Linked DNA regions of Homo sapiens. The protein of the gene in region 2 purifies or fractionates together with the protein of the main gene of each other region. This does not show direct contact. Each region holds a gene or a part of one and is shown on either strand. Other genes may lie near its edges.

Region 1 (3,500 bases), on a different chromosome or scaffold from region 2:
AACGGATAGTACATGTTTTTGGCTTTGTGAACCAGATGGTCTCTGTGGTAACTACTTAGATCTGCTGTGAAAGCGGCAATAGACAGCATGATGTGGCTGCACTGGTTTGGTGACTCCTTGCTCAGAACATTGTAAGAATCCCTGTAGACAGCAGAAAATACAGAACATGGTTTTATGCTAATTTGTTTTGTTAGAGTGGGGTATCCTAAAAAATGAGATCCTCTGAGGGGAAGGTTTCCAGAGGCATGCATGGGAGGCTCACAGTGACAGGGTATCAAAGTTGATGGACTAGGCAACTCTTGAACACAGTATGTTCACTTCCAGCCTATCGTTCTCCCCACCCCAACTCTCCAACCATTAATGTCCTAGGAGCTTGTAAGATACCCAGAATAGTGGTCCTACATCTACTACTACCCTTGACTGTTGTTTGTCCTAAACCCTCCACTTCAGTAGTATAAATACCACTGACTTTATTTTCATTACTTTTTAAAAACATCTCCTCTGTAATAGGAATTTATATAACTGATAATTGGCTTATTTAAATTATGATTGAAGGCATTTAAATAGTGATGACTTTAAAAACTATGAGTATGGTCAAACCAGTTGCTGTACTCACTTATGATTATCAGTAGTCTCTTATCTGATTAATGTTTAACTTATCAAATTTATTTTAATAAAAGTGTTCTTTACAGGTCCTGAGAAGTATTTCTCGTTTTCATTGGAGATCACAGCATACAAAAGCCAATCGACAACGTGAACCAGGATTAGGATTTAGTTTTGGTATATGTTCGGTTCTATCTTTTGACTTTAAACTTATACATATGAAGCTTTATATGTTTTGTTTGGAATATGTTTGTAAATAAACTTAATAATGTCTTTCAATGAGTAGAACCAGTCCACTGTCCACAGATAATTTACAATAACTCACACTCCATTCTTCCTGATCTCATTTTCTTCCTCAGTATACTACACTGTACATTAGATCTGTTTTAGCAGCATACATACACTTAAATTCCTTCCTTTTTTTCTGAGTGTTTAGCCCAAAATAAATGAGATTTACTGATATATATGAATAGTCTTCAACTTACATATCTGAATGCCACAAATACATTTTAAAAACACTTGTTAGATTACAATTCTAGGTGCCTGGTAATAAGCTAAAGCTTGTTTTTGCTATAATATATCCAAATTGCAATTTTGGTACTATTAGATGAAGTTCTCACTCCTGGGACCAGGGAGCCATGATTTTTTTTCCTCTGCCCTCTATAAAATGAAAACTACACACAAAAAATTTGAAATAATATCTATCTTTGGCATTCTTGGCCTTCTAAAGTGCTTCTTCAAAATTTTTATTTTTTCTCTAGTTAAAAACCATTTACTCAATTTATTTGGTCTCAGAAAATAGTTAAAGGCAGCTGCGATAACTCACAGCTAGGTACAAATGACAATCTCAAAGCTCTCCAGAGTTATTTTTTTTATTATTTGTTGTGTTTTTTAAAGATTTTTCCCTTTTCTTTATAAAGGTTTTTTTTTTTCTTACCAGAATTTAATGAAATTTTTCTTTTCTTTTTCTTTCTTTCTTTTTTCTTTTTTTTTTTTTTTTTAAGATGAGGTTTCATTGTCTCATTATGTTGCCCAGGCCGATCTTGAACTCCTAGGCTCAAGCAGTCCTCTTATTTCAGCCTCCCAAAGTGCTGGGATTATAGGCATGAGCTACTGCACCCAGACCAAATGAAAAGTTTCTGTGTTTTTTTTTTTTTTCCTGTGACTTCTAGCCAAAGACTGGATGAAAATTTTCTCTTTTCTTTTTTTTGAGACAGAGTCTCACTCTGTCACCCAGGCTGGTGTGCAAGTGGCTCACTGCAACCTCTACCTCCCAGGATCAAGCGATTCTCCTGCCCCAGCCTCCTGAGTAGCTGGGACTACAGGTGTGGGTCATCATGCCTGGCTAATTTCTATATTTTTAGTAGGGATGGGGTTTTGCCACGTTGGCCAGGCTGGTCTCGAACAGCTGAAGACAAGTGATCCACCCACCTCTGCCTCCCAAAGTGCTGGGATTACAGGCATGAACCACTGTGCCCAACCTAAATGAAAATTTTTTTTCTTTTCTCTTTCTGTAGCCAAAGACTAAATGAAAGTTTTCAAGCACTGTGAGGATAGCCATTTGGGATGGTGGATTTTTTTTTTTTTTTTTTTTTTTTTTTGAGACTGAGTCTTGCTCTGTTGCTCAGGCTGGATTGCAGTAGCTCCATCTGGGCTCATTGCAACCTCTGCCTCCTGGGTTCAAGCGATTCTCCTGCCTCAGCCACCCAAGTAGCTGAGATTACAGGTGTGGGCCACCATACCTGGCTAATTTTTATATTATTAGTAGATATGAGGTTTCGCCATGTTGGCAACGCTGGTCTCGAACTCCTGGCCTCAAGTGATCCACCCGTCTTGTCCTCCCAAAGTGGGATTATGGGCATTAGCCAGCATGCCCAGCCAGGGTAGTGGATCATACTGAGATAATTAGCATTAATTTGGTATGATTGCTTGTCACTTTAAATTTCTCTCTCAGTAGTAAGAGACTTGCAGGAGAAATCTATGGTGGTTCACTGAGTGACAGAGGATGAGTTAGATATAATTGTTTGGGAGGGAGATTGTGAAGTTCAATACGGGTCTATTCCTTGAACCAGTTGCATCTGGTTCTTTATCTGTAAAGTGGAAATAATATCTATAACACAGAATTTCTATGAAGATTAAATTATATGCTGTATTTAAAGCCCCTAGCACTTAGTGACTGGATCAAAGTAGTTTCTCAATAAATAATACATAATACATACTTGTCATTTTTCCTTTTTTTTTTTTTTAAGAGACAGGGTTTCACTCTGTCACCCAAGCTGGATGCAACCTTGACCTCTGGGGCTCCATGGATTCTCTCGCCTCAGCTTCCTGAGCAGTTAGGACAATAGGTCCATGTCAACCACACCTAGCTGATTTTTTAAATTTTTAAATGTTTTGTTGAGACAGGATCTTGCTATATTGCTCAGGCTGGCCCCAAACTCCTGGCCTCAAATGGTTCACCTGCCTCAGCCTCCCAAAATTCTAGAATTATAGGCATGAGCTACCGTGCCCAGACTTTCTCTACCCTCTATCTACCTGCAAGATTGCTATCAACTGGCACCAATCTTAGAAGTAAAGCTGTGATAGAGAGAACACTGGACTGAAATTCTTAAGTATACTTCTGCTAATTCATTGTGAGACTGATACTAGAATTTCCTTACTCTGCATTAGTTTATCAATAAAAAGAGAGATTTGGCTGGGCGCAGTGGCTCGGGCCTGTAATCCCAGCACTTTGGGAGGCCGAGGTGGGCGGATCACGAGGTCAGAAGATCGAGATCCTGGTGAAACCCCGTCTCTACTAAAAATACAAAAAAAAAAATTAGCCGGGCGCGGTGGCAGGCACCTGTAGTCCCAGCTGCTCAGGAGGCTGAGACAGGAGAATGGCGTGAACCCGGGAG
Region 2 (3,500 bases):
TTTTGTTCTCCTAAACTATTTGGGTTTTTTGTTTGTTTGTTTTTATTTGAGACAGAGTCTCATTCTGTCACCCAGGCCGGAATACAGTGGCGTGATCTTGGCTCACTGCAACATCCACCTCCTGGGTTCAAGGGATTCTCCTGCCTCAGCCTCCTGAGTAGCTGGGATTACAGGTGCCTGCCACCACATCTGGTTAATTTTGTGTGTGTGTATTTTTAGTATAGATGGGGTTTCACCATATTGGGCAGGCTGGTCTGACCTCAAGTGATCTGGCCTCCCAAAGTGCTGGATTACAGGCATGAGCCACTGCGCCCAGACTTCCTAAACTATTTGAAATGGAGTTGCACACCCACAGACACCTTCGGCAAGTCCCAAGAAAAAGGACTTTTCTCTTCCAGCACCACAGTGCTATTGTCACACTTTAATTATCTTCCAGCCTCTAATTATTAGAGTTTAATCTTCCCTCCATATTCAAATGTCAAGGTAAAAGATTAGAAAGATTTTTGTCATCTAAGGAGCTTGGAGTTTATCCATTAGGGCTTGGGGAGGATTGTTTTTTATGGAGGCATCTGAGAGGATTAGAAAGAAACCCAGAGTAAGGCCAGGCACAGTGGCTCACGCCTGTAATCCTAGCACTTTGAGAGGCCAAGGTGGGCGGATTGCTTGCGTCCAGGAGTGCAGGACCAGTCTGGGCAACACAGCAAAACTCCATCTCTACAAAAAAAAAATACAAAAAATTAGCTGGGTGTGGTGGTACACACCTGTGGTCCCCAATACTTGGGAAGCTTAGGTAGGAGGATCCTTTGAGCCTAGAAGGCAGAGGTTGCAGTGAGCCGTGATGGCACCACTGCACTCCAGCCTTGGCTGCAGAGCAAGACCCTGTCTCAAAACACAACAAAACAGCCGGGTGCTGTGGCTCACGCCTGTAATCCCAGCACTTTGGGAGGCCAAGGTGGGTGGATCACGAGGTCAGGAGATTGAGACCATCCTGGCTAACACAGTGAAACACCGTCTCTACTAAAAATACAAAAAATTAGCCAGGCGTGGCGGCGGGTGCCTATAGTCCCAGCTACTCGGGAGGCTGAGGCAGGAGAATGGCGTAAACCCGGGAGGAGGAGCTTGCAGTGAGCTGAGATCGTGCCACTGCACTCCAGCCTGGGTGACAGAGCGAGACTGCCTCAAAAAAAAAAAGAAAAAAGAAACTAGGGGTAAGTTAGAGACTGGATTTGAGATTGTGAACTGGAGACTGGAGGCTGCAGACAAAAACCCACTTCACACTCTGCACCGCAGTTTTCTCATCTGTAAAGAGGAAATCCTAGACCAGGCGCAGTGGCTCACGCTGTAATCCCAGCACTTTAGGAGGCTAAGGCAGGTGGATCGCTTGAGGTCAGGAGTTCGAGACCAGCCTGGCCAACATGGTGAAACCCCGTCTCTACCAAAAATACAAAAACTAGCCAGGTGTGGTGGCACACGCCTGTAATCCCAGCTACTCAGGAGGCTTAGGCAGGAGAATCACTTGAAACTTGTAGGTGGAGGTTGCAGTGAGAATGATGTCATCATAGCTCGCTACCGCCTCCAACTCCTAGGCTCAAGGGATCCTCCTGAGTAGCTGAGACCACAGGCATGTGCCACCATGCCCATCTAATTTTTAAAATTTTTTTGTTGCGACAGAGTCTGGCTTTGTTGCCCAGGCTGGTCTCTGTGACACACCTTTTTATAACCACTAACATTACTCAAACTATTTATTTATTTCTTTTTGTTGAGACAAGGTCTTGCTCTGTTGTCCAGGCTGGAGTGCAGCGGTGCAATCACAGCTCACTGCAGCCTCGAACTCCTGAGCTCAAGCGATCCTCTCGCCTCAGCCTTCTAAGCAGCTAAGACCACAGGTCCCCACGCCTGGCTAATTTTTTAATTTTCTGTAGAGACAGGTCTCACCATCGTACCCAGGTGAGTCTAGAACTGCTGGGCTCAACTGATCCTCCTACCTCAGCCTCCCAAAGTGCTGGGATTACAGGTGTGAGCCACTCTGCCCAGCCTTTGAACAATTTATATCATCCCAGTTTGCACATGAGGAAACAAGAAGCTGGCCAGTGGTCGATCCAGTACTTGACTTTAGGCAAAACCCAAGCTCTTTAACTATTCACCAAACTGCTCCTAAAAATATTTAGCATAGTTCTTGGCTTGAGGTAAAAGTTCTATAAATGTCAGCTGGTGTAGCTTGGCCAAGTTATAGCTTGTTGAAAGCTAATTCCTGAACAAATATTTAGTAAGTACCTACAATGTTCCAGATGCTTCTAAGGGCTGGGATTGGAGCAGGAAATGTGATAGAGTCACAGGATAACTCTAGCGTGTGGTGGCAGGGGAAGGGTCCTAGGGAGAAAACAAGGCCCCAAGAAAAGGGATTGGTAAACTGGGCTGGGGGAGACAGGATTTTGCAATTTTAAACAGGACAGTCAAGAAAAGCTGCATGGAAAGGTGACCTTTGAGCAAAGTCTGCAAAGAAAACAGGGAGCCATGTGGCTACGAGAGGGAAATGGCAAAGGGTCCTGGGTCACACCTGTAATCGCAGCATTTTAGGAGGTCGAGATGGAAGGATCGCTTAAGCCCGGGAGTTCAAAACTAGCCTGGGCAACTTGGTAAGACCTCCATCGCTACAAAAAAAATGTTTTTTTCTTTTTCTTTTGAGACGGAGTCTTGCTCTGTCACCCAGGCTGGAGTGCAATGGCACGATCTCGGCTCACTGCAACCTCTGCCTCCCAGGTTCAAGGGATTCTCCTGCCTCAGCTTCCTGAGAATAGCTGGGATTACAGGCATGCACCACGACACCTGGCTAATTTTTGTGTTTTTTTTGTTTTGTTTTGTTTTGTTCTGCTTTGTTTTTGAGATGGAGTCTTGCTCTGTCTCCCAAGCTGGAGTGCCGTGGCGCGATCTCAGCTCACTGCAACCTCCGCCTCAAGGGTTCCAGCAATTCTCCAGCTTCAGCCTCCTGAGTAGCTAGGACTACAGGCATGCACCACCATGCCCAGCTAACTTTTGTATTTTTACTAGAGATGGGGTTTCACCATGTTGGCCAGGCTGGTCTCGAACTCCTAACCTCAGGCGATCTGGCCTCCTCAGTCTCCCAAAGTGCTGGGATTACAGGGGTTAGCCACCAGACCCGGCCTAAAAAAATTTTTTAAATTAGCCAGGCTTGGCCGGTATCATGCCATTGCACTGCAGCCTGGGTGGCAAGAGGGAAGGAAACTCTGTCTCAAAAAAAAAAAAAAATAGTGGGGTTTGGTGGCTCACCCCTGTGGTCCCAGCTCCTCAGGAGGCTAAGGCAGGAGGATCACTTCAGCCCAGAAAGTCAAGGCTGCAGTGAGCCGTGTTCACGCCACTGTCCTCCAGCCTGGACAACAGAATGAGACCCTGTCTCAGAGAAAATAAAAAAGAGAGGGAAATGCATCAGGGGCAGAGGAATCAGACATTGCCAAGGCTGGGAGGCAGAACCTGGCTGGAGC

What was found. The genes of interacting proteins can lie anywhere in the genome.
Region 1: the proteins of BLVRB (region 2) and ACADM purify together in Homo sapiens (affinity purification with mass spectrometry; one large-scale study listed by BioGRID and IntAct). This does not show direct contact.

Annotation. Positions count from the first base shown.
Region 1 is NC_000001.11:75,727,709-75,731,208, forward strand, and holds part of ACADM (medium-chain specific acyl-CoA dehydrogenase, mitochondrial isoform a precursor), read left to right. Parts: intron 1-680; coding exon of another isoform or gene 681-692; coding exon 693-780; intron 781-3,500. UniProt on the Homo sapiens protein: Medium-chain specific acyl-CoA dehydrogenase is one of the acyl-CoA dehydrogenases that catalyze the first step of mitochondrial fatty acid beta-oxidation, an aerobic process breaking down fatty acids into acetyl-CoA and allowing the production of energy from fats.
Region 2 is NC_000019.10:40,452,246-40,455,745, reverse strand, and holds part of BLVRB (flavin reductase (NADPH)), read left to right. Parts: intron 1-3,500. UniProt on the Homo sapiens protein: Enzyme that can both act as a NAD(P)H-dependent reductase and a S-nitroso-CoA-dependent nitrosyltransferase. Promotes fetal heme degradation during development.